Regions from separate parts of the Homo sapiens genome. Here region 2 is linked to region 1. A link means that fine-mapping ties the variant in region 1 to the expression of a gene that starts in the linked region. Tissue or cell type: whole blood. Region 1 holds a variant in brackets; the other region holds the start of a gene. All regions are shown on one strand. Distances are from middle to middle.

Region 1 (8,108 bases):
CTATAAATGTGGCAAAAATACAAACCTAAGATGCCGATTTCAAGACCAGCCAAGCCTGTTTTAATTTTATCATAAATATCTTCTGATGCAAAGTCAACAGCAATGGTTCTTGTCTCCACTTTGAATTTTTCTTCTAGGGAAAAAGAAAACACAAACGGGGAGAGACAGGGAAAATTAGTACATGGCAGTGAAGATTAAGGCATTTGATAGCATTATCCTTTCAGACGTTTCTCCCCACCCAATTTGATACAAAATTTACACCAGGATAATTTTAAGCAATCATGAGACCATCTAAGAGATGATATAGAGTCAACACATTAGTTCTGCAATAAAAATTCTAATGTCGTCACAGAGAGCTGGCTGAATGTTCCTTAATCAGTTCTTCTTTTGTAAATCAATAATGAAAACTACTTTTAGACCCTTAGGTACAAATAATAAAACATGATTCATATCATAAAGTTATATACTCTTTAAATATCACTGGCTTTGTGATTTTAATTGTAAATTGGTGCTTTGTAACTTCAGGAAGAAGTCTTCATGTTGTAAAATATTTTAAAGTGTGACACATTAAAACAAAAAGTCTATCTTATCACAATGGAAATAAAATGAATGGGATCTTATAATTTGGGAGCTTGGTTAATAGTTAATAATCACTACATTTTAAAATCCACACAAAATGCACAGTAATAAAGGAATAAAGTAACATGAGAAACAACTCAGTATTCTACTTTACACAAGTCTATTAAGGTCCAAACAGTGCTGATGAAAATAATAGCTTCAGAAATGAGACCCTGGAGGAACAAAACTCATCTGAGTTAATGTACAGTATTTACTTTTGCCTTCAATAGACAGCCCCTGTGAAGAGATAGCACAGGCTCTGAGGTCACACAGACATGAGCATCAATTTCATTTCCACATATATTTGCAAAATGACTTTAAGCAAGTCACACATCCTCTTTGAGCCTCACCATCCTTTGGTGAAAATGAAGATAATTTTACCCAAATGATGATGTGAGGCTCACATGATACCTATGGTACGCAGACGGCAGTCCATAAAGGCTAGATTCTCTTTCTCTCCTCAACCATCTCCACTCAGCTTACTTAGTCAAGTCCAGTGAGCTAGGAATGCTTATTCTTTAGAACTTGCTGAGAATTCAAAAGAACTAATTTTAAAATCCTGCTTCCAAAAATAAATCTTTCTTTAGTCAAAGTCAATGTCAGCTCATCACAGAGCATGCAGGATTAATCCTCGTAGGAGGTATGTATTCTTGACCTAAAAGGATTTCTGTCTAAAACTAAAGAGTTGGTTCATGAGAGATCTGATTCTTAGTTAGACTTAATGAAAAGTACTGACCCTAGGTAGAAATCCATGAATAAACTGAAAAGAAGAATTGACCTAGAAAATACCTTATTTGGTGTTAAAGGTATACTTACTGTGCTAATATAAATGAGTTATAGGTGTGCTCATGTAATGGGAAGTTAGAGACAGAGCTGTAATTTCACAATAGCTGGTCCAACATGTCTACTTTAACATTTCACAGAATTTATCACCAGTAAATAAAGAATGCTGACTTTATTATAGCCACAGATCCACAAGGGAAAAAAAAAGCCCCAAAACAAAAGCTTAAAAATACCTTTGATTAAATGAAAAACTTCATTCAAGAATAACATAAGGTAAATTTATCTATTTATTTTGAAAAGCAAATTATTTTTCCATACTAGTATTAGGTATTGACATTCAGGAAATTTTCTACCAATAAAAGCCAACTCACAACTCCTGAACCAAATTCACTCTTCTGCATCTCACAGGATTTGCTGAATGTACATACTTACATTGTAGAGTTTTGTATAGATATGTTGCTAAAAAGATTCAATGACACTTTCACGAAGAATGTTATTTAGTAATGAACCAAAGCAAGCTCTTTGTATTCACATTAGCATAAGCAAATGGCTTCTGGTACAAGTTTTTCAGGTTAATTAAAATTTCTGAACTCATACCTAGATTTCCCAGAATCATGTACTAATACAGTGACCACTGCCTTTTTTAAAAAACAACTTTTCTTCACTGCCTCTATTGTGAGCCTTTCCATTTTTTTTTTTCTTTTAAGAGATGGGGTCTCAAGCCTGGGCTTAAGCCTCCTTAGTAGCTGGGACTATAGGCACACACCATCGTTCCCGGCTTTTCCTATTTAACGTAGGTCAGACCATGATACCCACCTCTTCACAAACCTCCAGAGATTTCCCTCTCACTCAGAGTAAGAGCCAAAAGGCTGTGGCAACAGCCTAATAAACGGTGTGAGTTTATTGGCTGAACTCACCTCCAACTACTCTCCCCGTTGCTCCTCAGTTCTAGCCATAGGGGATCCTAGCAGTTGTTTAGATACAGAATGTTGTCCACGTACACTCGGGACTTAAACTTACCATTCCCTATGTTTGGAATGCTCTTCCACATCCCTTGTCTCTGGTGGGTCCTTGAGCAAATGTTACCTTCTCAGAGAAGCCTGCCTTGCCCACCCTTTAATAAATGCAACCATCCCCCCCAGCACTCCTCATGCCCTTCCCTGCTTTATTTTATCCCATTGTACTTACCACCTTCTAATACACTAGGTAGTGTATTTTAATAATGTACATGCTTGTCTATATGTCTTGACTCAAATTAAGCTTCAAGAAGACAAGGACTTGGTTCTGTTTTGTTCAGTTGCTCAACAATGGCACAAATGATCTGGGATTTTCCCACCCTCCTCTCTTTTCCCTTAGGCTGGCTCCTTTCCTGGAGGGCCATTGCCATTCCATGCATCGCATGCAGACAACAATGTTCGGAGGCAGAGATTGTATGTCTCTGTGATATGTCCCTTTTATAGAGAGAAAATTTCCCCAGAAGAATCCAGCAGACTCCCACCACGTTTCCTTTCCAAGGAATATGGTACATGCATGCTATTGACCAGGGACATGGTTGGGTGGACTTTCAGAATTCCATCAACTGCCTCCACCTCCACCATCGAGTTCTGTGAATCAAAAATAGATGTGCATATATAAGAATAGGACAGGAACTGTCTCTTTCTGGGCCAAGGCAATTGAATAAGAATTATAATGGAGGGGTCTAGAAGGCTAAGGTGGGAGCTAGCTAGCCTATGTTAAAAAAGAAAAGTTGAGAACGATGGTGTGTGCCTGTAGTCTCAGCTACTCAGGAGGCTTGAACTTGGGGCTTGGAGACCAGCCTAGAAGTAAATCTAGGCATCTTCCCCCTTCCCATAGCCTATTACCCTGCATGTGACCCTGCCAACAGAAGACAAGACAAATGGACAAGAATCCTCTAACTTTAAACATCAGTATGAGGGTGAATTAAGCACCTGGAACAGAAGTAGATACCAGATATACATAACACAGCCCTCATTTCCATCTTCACACCTCCCCAACCTGTTTTTTTTCATAAAACCACCAGTCTACAACTCAGCAACAGCCTACTGCTAGGGAAGAATAAGCACTTTACCAAAGTTTTTGGAGTAGTACTTCTTCTGGGACTCTGATCCTTGCCTCATTACAAAGGTCTAAGAAATGACACAGCCTCTCTCTTTTTTCCAGAGTAGGAGTTGAAATAAGTTAAAATCAATATCCCACAAGTGTGTAGGATAAAGATGCACAAACAATTGGATTTGGAGGTTGCAATGAATATGATATGAGCCACACAATTACCCCTTCAGTGAAACTCATGTTGCCCTAATTGTGGGAGTATCACCAGCAGACAGCTTTTGGGTGTCAGCCTCAGCTGCAGAGTTGCCTTGTCCAAGATCACGCTCTTTCCGTAGCATCCTCATCCAATGGCTGATCCCGGTGAATGTTTAAAGTGATTGGACAGCTTGTACCTACAAGATTCTGATTCCAGAAGTATAGTCTGTTTATTATCTTATTTTTCTGTTCTTTCACAATGCCCTAGTTTTAGTTATGCTACATCTAAAATGGGTTTCAACATTTCTAGTAGTGCAAGTCTACTTTGTTCTTCTTTTTTAAAAACTTATTGCTTATCCTCACCTGTTTAGTCTCAGTTTTGATTGGGATTACATTAAACATTTCAATTAAAGAATGACAATGTGGCATTCCCTCCGGGCTCTCCATTTATTCAAATGTTTTGTTTAAATATCTCACAGTAAAATCTTGTGGTTGTAAATTCTTAAAGACTTAAAGAATTCCATGATATATACAGATACTCAATACTATTGATGCCTATTGACAAATCAGTCGGTATCTGAAATTGTATGAGCTAGCATCCCACTACTTACAGTTGTGGTTACATATAGTCATGACCCATCCCAACTTTATTTTCAGATGAAAATAATTATCAGATGGTCTTGGCCAACTGCCTCTCAGCCTAGTGGCTAAGACCAAACACCAAGAAGAAAAAAAC[T/C]GGTATGAACTGCTCGAGGCAGTCAACTAACTAGAAATGGAGGCAGAAATGCAACTCTGGCATAAAAAGTGGAGAATGAAGCTAAGCTACACTGATACTATTCACTCCCTTTCTATCTACTGCTCCATTGAAAACCAGATAACTACAATTGTGGAAAAGCAGAAAGCAAATATTATTTATAACGATAGTGCTATAGAATAATGAATATCCTCACTGGCCTCAAGCCATTCCATCACCTGCAAGAGCACATGCACCACTCCTACAGTCACACTGCTGTTTACGACACAGAGTATTCAGAATTCATTCAAGGTCAAGTCTGGAATTGACAGAAAAGGAACTGAACCCTCAAATAGTCTCAAGATGCTGCTGAAACACCTCTCAATATTAAAACTCACACATTTTTAGGTACAAGCCAAGAAAGGTGATAAATATATTCAGAATGGCTTTATGTTTACCATACTTCCAGCTCTGGCCATCATCATTTTCATTTTGCTCAACAAATTGGCATTTCCTTTTAAATTTCTCTTTCTATAAAAATAATTTTATAGATTTTAGAAGGACTTTCCTCAAGTTTTTCCCCTAGGTGGCTGGGGATATTAAGTCTGAGAATGTTACAAAAGAAGTCTAATTTACATAAACTTGTGTGTTATTTGTGTTTTTTCTATTAATAAAACCAAAATATATATGTTGACTCTCCTTTGTCCCCACATCTGCTCCAAATAAACAGCCTGCCTTCCCCTGTAAGTTTTAGGTACTATCCATTATGAAATTTCTGTCATATCACCCTTCCTCACTTTTTCCATATTATAACATTATTATAACATTCTTTAAGATTCAAGTCATGTTACTGCATCCGTGGACATATTTTTCACTATTCCTATTTCCTCCAAGGTAAAGCTACTTCCACTCTCTGCTGTGCTCCTAGAAACCTTCTATATAACCCTACGAGGCACTTAATATATTAAGCAAAGAGTCTGTTTCTTAAACAGGGAGCATTATTTGTCATATTTGTATTCCCTGCAGCTAGCACCATGTCTGGCATAAAGCAGAGGTCATTCTGCTCAATGTTTGTTAAATGAGTAAATAAAGCTAGGCCAACACAGCTGATTTATTAAAATCATCTTCTCAATACTTCTTGAATTCCTCCCTATAGAAATTACATTTCTTACATGCTGGTAAGAAATGTATGTATAAGACAGAACATTAGGCATATTAAAATATAAGCTAGAGTGGGGTGTGGTGGTGCACGCCTGTAGTACCACCTACTCTGGAGGCTGAAGCAAGAGGATCACTTGAGCCCTGCAGTTTGAGACCAGCCAGGACAACATAGCAAGACTCCAGCTCTCAAAAAAAAAAAAAAAAAAAAAAGGTTACATTGAGAGACAATTCAGTTCCTCCATCTGTCATACACGGGTCTGGACTATCATTCTCATATAAATTCAAACATTTTAGAGTTATAAGAAACCTTAGAAACCATCCCATCTCATGAATAAAGTACTCTAAGCTTGGCTCAGGGGCACATATATGAAGGTTGAGGATATTTTAGTCATGTACCAATCTCCCTTATTCCAGTCTTGGAAAAGATAATGAGTTGGGGAGAGGAGACTCTTAGAGAAACAGCACTATATTCAATGCGTACCAATTTTAGCATCTTAAAAATAAATTCATAAAATTCAGTTTGTAACCATAAAAATGTCTCGCACGTTTTTTAAAAAACCTCTCCATTTTCACTAAAATTATGTTTTACAGTATTTAGAGATTTAAAAGATGCAAGACAAGTCTTTTGTACTTTCTCTAATTTTAAGGGGAAAAGAAAAACAAAGTACCCTAACCAATTTCTCTCCACTTCCCTTCTTTTCCTGTCTTCTTTCCCCCACAACTCCTAGGCCTTACCGTATCCTTACATCCCTACTATCCCTTGGGGTGAGACATCCCCCAACAAAGAAAGCCTGCCTTACATGACTTTGGAAAAGGTGATTGTGTACCAGAAGGGAATAATTGATCTGACTCCATTTATAAAGGCCCATTTAATTACAATGAGCAGAGATGCCACACAAATAATGGTCTATTTCCTTTTTTATGTTGCCCTTGGAAAAATATTCATGACAATTTTAATCTCATATGAAGAGACCCATTTTCCAAAAAATTAATCATAGCTCATCAGGATTCTATCTCAAACCAAGCATTTCTTTATTTTAAGCCAAGGTTATTATATTTTTTTCATTATAGCCTCTTTAACTAGAACAACCACTTGCAATAAATAAAAACCTTATGCTGCGTGAATCTGTTCTATTGATAGGACGTGAATAGGCTCCATCCTTTTGAAAGCTCTGGGTTCTACAGTTGGTCCAGGAATTGTAGACTCTTGTACAAACCACTCTTGAAGAAATTTTCATATAACAACGTTGATTTTTCTGCACTTGGTAAACAAAAGGTCAACAGAAGTACCTGAATTTTGTTTTTTGAGGGGAGAAAAAGGCAAAATATTCCTCTTCTTCTTCTTCTTCTTTTTTTTTTTTGAGACAGAGTCTCACTCTGTCACCCAGACTGGAGTGCAGTAGTGTGATCTCAGCTCACTGCAACCTCTGCCTGCCAGGTTCAAGAGATTCTCTTGCCTCAGCCTCCCAAGTAGCTGGGATTACAGGCACCCACCACCACACCCAGCTAAGTTTTGTATTTTTAGTAGAGACAGGGTTTTGCCACGTTGGCCAGGCTGGTCTCGAACTCCTGACCTCAGGTGATCCGCCTGCCTTGACCTCCCAAAGTGCTAGGATTACAGGCATGAGCCACTGCTCCCGGCCCAAAACATCATTCTTAAGATTACTACACTTAAGATTCCAAGATGCTACTGCTAGCAGTATGAAAGCAGGGTTCACTGGAAGAGCCTGGGATGCAGTTAGAAGACCTGCACTTGAGTGCCAACTCAACTGGTTGCTGGCCTAAGGCCCTTCACTCAAGCCTTTGAACTTTCAAGAATACCATTTCTTAGCCTAGAAAACCACAAAAAATAATACCCACCCTACACAGTTTTTTTTTATTTTGTTTTTTGTTTTTTTGAGATGGAGTTCCGCTTTTGTTGCCCAGGCTGGAATGCAATGGTGCAATCTTGGCTCACTGCAACCTCCACCTCCTGGGTTCAAGCGATTCTCCTGCCTCAGCCTTCCGAGTAGCTGGGATTACAGGCACCCACTACCATGCCCTGTTAATTTTTGTATTTTTTTATTAGAGATGGGGTTTCACCATGTTGGCCAGGCTGGTCTCAAACTCCTGACCTCAGGTGATCCGCCTGCCTCAGCCTCCCAAAGTGCTGGGATTACAGGCGTAAGCCACTGTGCCTGGCCCATAATAATTCATAAGTTTTAAATTGCACGCCATTCTAATTAGCATGATGAAATCTTGCACTGTCCTGCTCTCAGTGTGAATCATACCTTTGTCCAGCATATCCATGCTGTACACACCACCCACTCTTTAGTCACTTAGTATCTCTCTTGGTTATCAGATCAGAAAAAGAGCACATATAGGTATATAGGGTTCAGCACTATCCACAGTTTCAAGTATTCACTGGGGATCTTGTGGCATATCCCCTGCAGACACGGGGGGGACTCCTCTATCTGCCAATATCTACAAAGATGGCTGCTTGGCAAATAGTTGTTTTTTCCTTAATAGCATAGGCTGCTGTAGGTATAATCTGTATTCTTAACTCTTA
Region 2 (8,108 bases), 110 kb after region 1:
AGAAATTGTGATTATACCTGTGATTTTGAGAATCCTTTGATGCATGTTTTCATGAATGGTTTTTCCAGAGGAGAACCACACCATTCCATGCCATTTTTAAGTCCTCACTATCTACTGAATTAGGAGAACCTTGGAATACTGCAAAGCCAAACGAGTTCCATCAGCAACCAGAAGCTACATCTTAGAGATTTGCTAATGTAAACATCCAGAGGGTAGAACAAAGGGTTGAAGACTTTTTTTGTGAAATCTGACCTCACTCCACAAAACAGAATATTATTCAGCAATACAAACAAAATGAAGTACAGATTTCATAGATGAAACTTGAAAACATTATGCAAAAATCAAAGAGCCACTAACAAAAAAGAACACCTATTGTATGATTCCATTTATATGAAATATCCAGAACAGGCAAACCTACGTAGACAGAAAGTAGATTGGTAGTTGACTAGGGCTGGAGCGGGTGGGGGTCAGGGAGTGAAGGGCCTAATGGGTACAGCATTTCTTTTAAGGAAGATGAAAATGTTCTGAAATTAGATTTGATGATGGTTGCACAACCCTGTGAACATAAGTAAAAACCTTGAATTGTACACTTTAAATGGGCAAATTGTATGGTATATTAATTATATCCCACTAAAGTTGTTTTAAAAAATCTAACTCACTAACTGATTAGTGGATCATTTATTCTTCACTGCGTGTAACAATATCCTCTTCATTAAAAACTAAAAATAAGTGCTCAGAGTGCTGTCTTATGTTTAAAGTTATAAAATATCTTGACATTGGAAGTCTACTTACCTTGCCTTTGCATCTATCATCTCCACTTTATTTCAATAGCAATCATTTTAGATGAACTCCAGCAATGGAAACTACTCAAATACTTGCAAAATGTATTTATGGTCAAACCACATTCTACAGATCACATTTTTTATTGCTCTATAGCAGTGACTGTTCTTTCCTTTATTTAATACAAACTGACCACCTTTGTTATCAATCTTTTTTTGATTACTTGCTACACTGACCTTCAAACACCTGAAACTCCACATTCACAGGATCTCCTTTTGTTCTCCTAAGAAATACAGGAAGTATTCGGGTAACAATGACAAAGAAGTCTTACTTACTAAATTGGCTAAACCCACCTTCTAGGGGTATAGGGAACACAGGGGATTCACCTGAGTGGGAATGTTACTGGTGAGAACTAGGAGAAAGAGATGGCCCAGCTCTTGACCAGGAGATGGAGATAAATTAGAGTGTGGGCCAGCCAAGTAATGGACAGTCTTGAAAGCCTAACAACACTAAGGAAACTGTTATCTAGAATATTTTACTGATTGTGAAGCATACCTGTATTTCAAGTTTTTCAAAGTTTTTGTTCTTAAATTTAGAAGAGCCAATTTGTGAGAAAAGACAAAAAGTGAGAATCCACGCTTTCTGCCCCTCAGATCCTAAAATCTGAGGCAGACAGATTAAACATACTCACATGAAGATACTCACATGAAGAGACTAAGAATAACAAGAATAAAAATATAGTATCAATTCAACATATACTAATAAAATACTTAAAATATATAATTGGTTTTAAAGAGGAAAATATTAAATATTAGTACTAGAAAGTAGATTCAAAGGCTGCATAAGAACAGAGACTCTTGAGATTAAGATAGTAATTTCGTAGGGAAAAAACTTACTAGTACTATTTACATACAACAATTCTAAAATCATAACTTTGGTGGAACAATATTTTTAATCACAACTCTAATTATTCAAGTGTCATCTCTGCTAGTTTGTTTTTCAAATTATTTCAGTTCACCCCTCCAACTCATGTGAAGAACCTGTTTAAGATGAGCTGCTCTTAATTTTGTTTTTGAAGAGTCCCAGAATTTGAAGATAAAGGGAGTATTTTCTTTTAAGATCACTTCTTCTGCTTAAGCATTTAAAAAAAAAAAATCCAAAACCCAGGGTAAATTGAACCTGTCAGCATTTCACTTCAATTATGATACTATGATCCTCTGCTGTTCCAGTGTTCCAGTTCAAATTTCATATCTAAATCTTACACAAATACTTCCCTTAATTTATCAATTATCCTTCCTCTGGGGCCAAATCTTTTCAACACAAATGTTACTTATGGTGTTACATCACTTGCCTTTTACTGTACACTCATATGTAGATGACTTGGACTTATCATTTGAATAATCAACCAATATGGTCAATTTTAAAGAGAAAAAAAAAAAAAAACAAAAAAAAACACATCCAGGCATGGTGGCTCACACATGTAATCCCAGCACTTTGGGAGGCTGAAGCAGGAGGATTGCTTGATCTCAGGTCTTCCAGACCAGCCTCTGAAACAGAGTGAGGCCTTGTCTCTACAAAAAACAAAAAAAATGAGCTGGTGTGGTGATGCACACCTGTAGTCCCAGCTACTCAGGAGGCTCACATGGGAGGATCACTTGAACCCAAGAGTTCGAGGCTGCAGTTGGCTATGATCACACCACCACACCACTGCCCTCCAGCCTGGGTGACAAAGTGAGACCCTGTCTCAAAAAAAAAAAGAAAAGAAAAGAAAACAACAAGTTATTAACATTAGTCTTTGCTTACCAATTACAAATTTTATCTTGATACAATTCCCTAATTTTTATCTTGTATAAAAATCTTGTAGTCTTTTGTAGTCAAAAGTCTTCAAACAGGTTTTCCAAAACTAACAATGAAGAATGTGGGCAAGTCAATTGGGAAATCATAATCTTAATTATAACCAAGTTGAATACTTCACTTTCTGTTTTTTTTTTTTTTTTTTTTTTGAGATGAGTCTCGCTCTGTCACCCAGGCTGGATGGAGTGCAGTGGCATGATCTCGGCTCACTGCAAACTCCGCCTCCTGGGTTCAAGCGATTCTCTTGCCTCAGCCTCTGGGACTACAGGGGCGCGCCACCACGCCCAGCTAATTTTTGTATTTTTAGTACAGACGGGGTTTCACCGTGTTGGTCAGGCTGGTCTCAAACTCCTGACCTTGTGATCCACTCGCCTCGGCCTCCCAAAATGCTGGGATTACAGGCGTGAGCCATCACACCCAGCTGAACATTTCACTTCCTTTTTCAGAGAAACAGGTGACTGTGAAACAGAATTATAATGTTGCTCCACATCGTCCAAAGATTTCACATACATATCCACTGCTAAGATGTTTTCTCTTAATGTTAACATAAACCCAAAAGGTTAACATATGTCTTTCCTACTAGGTTGTTTAAATGTTTCTAAATAAACAAAGAACATGGAGTAACATTATTAGTGTATCTTACCTGAGCCCAGTCTGCAGGCAATGCCTAACCACCCCAAAATTCAATAAAATGCTTAGGAAGTGCACATTCGATTATAAAACATCAAAATAAATAATCATCTCAGGGTAGGACCACAAGCATATCATAAGTAATCACTCGGTTTAAAGGGAAAAAAGGCCAAGAGACGAAAAATAAAGCAAAGAAGGAAACAAAATAGGTTGAAAAAGAAAAAAAAAAGGGGGGGGGGAGCAAAACTTCCCTGCAGATAATTTTCCCTATTTCCTCAACCTGACCTTCGTCCTCCATTTTAAAAATCCTCCGACTACAAGTTCCATGTGTTTGGTTCACTCTTTACGGGTATACTTTTTCCTACAAACGTCCTTGTGAAAAAAAAAAAAAAATCTGATTTTAACATGATGAGTTATCATTTTACAGAAGCAATAGTTCTTGCTACTCGTTAGGACTCCAGAACAGTTTAGCGAGAATTCCTTTTAAAGGGGCTTTGTAATTGTATGAAATAGGCCAAATCCAGATACGATTACTATCTTAATCGTAACTGGGGAGGTACGATTCCGCAGTGCAAAAAGCCTTCTGAAATTGTGTCCCTACACCCCTTTCCATCCTCTGCCCAAACATGTTAACAGAATGCTCTGCATCCTTAGCACAGGGCCAATATTCAAACCGAGCGAAAAACTTTATTTTAAAAACACTTACAAGGGGCGAACCAAGGAGGACAGCGTGTGACTGAGGAGGCAGCAGGGCGACTGACTGGCTCCATGAACACGGAATGGCTTAAAGGGCACAAGCCCCAGAGACTTAAGGCAGTTTTCTCCTACACCCTAAGCTGAGCTTAGATTCCCAGGATTGAGCGAGCAGTGTATTTCGTACCTTAAAACTCTGCAAGTAGTCTAAGCAAGCAGAAGACAGCCAAGGGAGCCAGGAGGGGCCCGCGGGGCACAGGAGCCTGAGAAAGAGGAGAGCTGGGGAGGGGAAGGCCAGGAGCAGACCCCAGAACTAGTCATCACGGCCCAGGCCTGGTCCGGGCCGCCGCGGGAGCGAGGACGCGGCGCTGCATCCGACTCACCTGCCCATTCTCCGAGCCCCGGGCCGACCCCCGCCTCATTCCCCACTCCCCAGACCCGGAGGGCCGTGAAGAGCGAGTACGAAATACGCAGGGCTAGGTAGGCCACGGTGCCCGCGCCGACCCAGTACAGGAAGCCGGCGGCGGGGAGAGCGCTCTCCATGGCTTTCCACTAGGCCTCACTACCTTCGTGAATGAAAAGAGCGAGTGAATGAATCCAGGAGGAGGCGCCGGCCGTGACGGTGAGGATGACACTAATAGGCGCTGCTCCGACACCACTTTGGGCCTAAACCCCGCCCGCGGGGCCATATCCGTGTCGCTATTGGTGACCCGTCTTTCCCTCTGCGCGTAGTGCGTCAGCCATTAGCTGACTCCAGTTCCACTGCCCCTCCCACACTCCTCCCATCACCGCGTCCCCCGGGGTTCCGCCAGTGAGCGCCCTGTCTCACCCCACCGAGGCGCCCCGGTCTCTCATTGGCTGCAGCCGTACTCGCGACTGCGGAAGACTGCGCTCGGATTGGCCGGTCAGACCCAGGCTGGTTTGAGCTCAGGTTCGAAGAGGAAATGGGATCAGAGAAGCCGCTAGTGAATGGAAAGATTATAGTAAGAAGTGGGCGTAGGCAGGGCGCGGTGGCTAACACCTGTAATCCCAGCACTTTGGGAGGCCGAGGCGGGCGAATCGCTTGAGCTTAGGAGTCCGAGACCAGCCTGGCCAACATCCGAACCCCGTCTCTACTAAAAATACAAAAATTAGCCGGGCGTGGTGGCGTGCGCCTGTAATCTCAGCTACTCGGGAGGCTGAGGCAGGAGAATCACGAACCCGGGAGGCAGAGGTTGCAGTGAGCCGAGATCGCGCCACTGCATTCCAGCCTGAGCGACGGAGTGAGACTCCATCCCAAAACAAAAACAAAAAAAAAAAGAAAAGAAATAGGTGTGGAGCCACAGTTTTATTTTCAACTCTTTATTAAATAAATATATATTTTACATATATGATATAATTATATAATAAATATATCATTGTTAAGCGTGCTGTCATTGTTGCCATAAACTTTTCCAGATAAAGGCTTGCAGTCTTCTGTGTCTGTGCCTTCCTCGCTGCAGGCATTCGCCCGGGTTACACTCACTCATAGAGAGCCCTTAAATGCCAGACCTCCCTCCCAGCTGAGCACTAAACATCACTTAGTTCCCAACGATTTGGGGTTCAAGGCAAATAACCTGATGGAGTCTAATAACTGTTAGACGATGGCATCAGAGCTGTATGGTGAATGAAAAATATAGGAACACAGCTTGCTGAACAATTAGTTTTGGAAGGAGACTATATCTTTTAATTTGTCTTCAAAGGGGGATAGAAAATTTTACTTTCTTTTTTAAATTTCCCTTTTTTGGTTGGGGAGTGGGGGAGTGGTATTTCCAGGGGGCACAGAAGTGTGAAGTCCAGATAGAGGCATGGGAACTACGTTAGCAAAGTTGCAGAGGAGAAAGATCACAAGGTAAGTTTAAAAAATTGTGTAAAACTTAAGGAGATTTTGGGCTGAGACGATGGGGTTTTCTAAATATACAATTATGTCATCTGCAAACAGGGACAATTTGACTGCCTCTTTTCCTAACTGAATACTCTTTATTTCTTTCTCCTGCCTGATTGCCCTGGCCAGAACTTCCAACACTATGTTGAATAGGAGTGGTGAGAGAGGGCATCCCTGTCTTGTAACTCAATGTGCAAAAATCACAGGCATTCTTATACACCAATAACAGACAAACAGAGAGCCAAATCATGACTGAACTCCCCTTCACAATTGCTTCAAAGAAAATAAAATACCTAGGAATCCAACTTACAAGGGATGTGAAGGACCTCTTCAAGGAGAACTACAAACCACTGCTCAACGAAATAAAAGAGGACACAAACAAATGGAAGAACGTTCCATGCTCATGGATAGGAAGAATCAATATCGTGAAAATGGCCATACTGCCCAAGGTAATGTATAGATTCAATGCCATCCCCATCAAGCTACCAATGACTTTCTTCACAGAATTGGAAACAACTACTTTAAAGTTCATATGGAACCAAAAAAGAGCCCGCATTGCCAAGTCAATCCTAAGCCAAAAGAACAAAGCTGGAGGCATCACACTACCTGACTTCAAACTATACTACAAGGCTACAGTAATCAAAACAGCATGGTACTGGCACCAAAACAGAGATATAAACCAATGGAACAGAACAGAGCCCTCAGAAATAACACCACACATCTACAACTATCTGATCTTTGATGAACCTGGCAAAAACAAGAAATGGGGAAAGGATTTCCTATTTAATAAATGGTGCTGGGAAAACTGGCTAGCCATATGTAGGAAGCTGAAACTGGATCCCTTCCTTACACCTTATACAAAAATTAATTCAAGATGGATTAAAGACTTACATGTTAGACCTAAAACTATAAAAAACCCTAGAAGAAAACCTAGGCAATACCATTCAGGACATAGGCATGGGCAAGGACTTCATGTCTAAAGCACCAAAAGCAATGGCAACAAAAGCCAAAATTGACAAATGGGATCTAATTAAACTAAAGAGCTTCTGCACAGCAAAAGAAACTACCATCAGAGTGAACAGGCAACCTACAGAATGGGAGAAAATTTTTGCAATCTACTCATCTTACAAAGGGCTAATATCCAGAATCTACAAAGAACTCAAACAAATTTACAAGAAAAAAACAAACAACCCCATCAACAAGTGGGCAAAAGATATGAACAGATACTTCTCAAAAGAAGACATTTATGCAGGCAACAGACACATGAAAAAATGCTCATCATCACTGGCCATCAGAGAAACGCAAATCAAAACCACAATGAGATACCATCTCATACCAGTTAGAATGGCAATCATTAAAAAGTCAGGCAACAACAGGTTCTGGAGAGGATGTGGAGAAATAAGAACACTTTTACACTGTTGGTGGGACTGTAAACTAGTTCAACCATTGTGAAAGACAGTGTGGTGATTCCTCAAGGATCTAGAACCAGAAATACCATTTGACCCAACCTTCCCATTACTGGGTATATACCCAAAGGATTATAAATCATGCTGCTATAAAGACACATGCACGCGTATGTTTATTGCAGCACTATTCACATTTGGAACCAACCCGAATGTCCAACAATGATAGACTGGATTAACAAAAAGTGGCACATATACACCATGGAATACTATACAGCCATATAAAAGGATGAGTTCATGTCCTTTGTAGGGACATGGATGAAGCTGGAAACCATCATTCTCAGCAAACTATCGCAAGGACAAAAACCCAACACCACATGTTCTCACTCATAGGTGGGAATTGAACAATGAGAACACTTGGACACAGGAAAGGGAACATCACACACTGGGGCCTGTCATGGGGTGGTGGGGGGGTGGGGAGGAATAGCATTAGGAGATAAACCTAATGTAAATGACGAGTTAGTGGGTGCAGCACACCAACATGGCACATGTATACATATGTAACAAACCTGCACATTGTGGACATGTACCCTAGAACTTAAAGTATAATTTAAAAAAATTGTGTAAAACAATAAAGTGCTTCACACTTACTCTCTACCTTCCTTCAAGAGTTTTTGTTTCCTTCTCTGGCATGGATTTGGGCTCAGAAAGGTACCTAAAATTTGTTCTTAGCCAGTAGGGGCTGCTGATTCAAGACTTGAGTGTTTTTTGTAAAGCAAGAACTTAAGGATAATAATTCTAAGGGTAACAGTTCAACATACCTTGCAGCTAACTTCATAGTTTGA

What was found. PIP is the estimated chance that this variant, and not a neighbour inherited with it, causes the effect.
Region 2: HSD17B12 starts here. The variant in region 1 is fine-mapped to the expression of HSD17B12 in whole blood (INTERVAL, PIP above 0.99).

What each region holds. Positions count from the first base shown.
Region 1 is chr11:43,790,345-43,798,452 of GRCh38, reverse strand. It overlaps HSD17B12 (hydroxysteroid 17-beta dehydrogenase 12), which reads right to left. Exons shown (of 11, transcript NM_016142.3): 4 at 26-133. Among named protein-coding and RNA genes, the nearest start is that of ALKBH3, 86 kb to the left of the region's middle. The variant T/C (reference allele first, on the strand shown) is at 4,403.
Region 2 is chr11:43,677,220-43,685,327 of GRCh38, reverse strand. It overlaps HSD17B12 (hydroxysteroid 17-beta dehydrogenase 12), which reads right to left and starts at 4,590. Exons shown (of 11, transcript NM_016142.3): 1 at 4,341-4,590. The coding sequence starts at 4,500. RefSeq lists enhancers at 3,836-3,895, 4,046-4,095, 4,170-4,735, 4,946-4,995.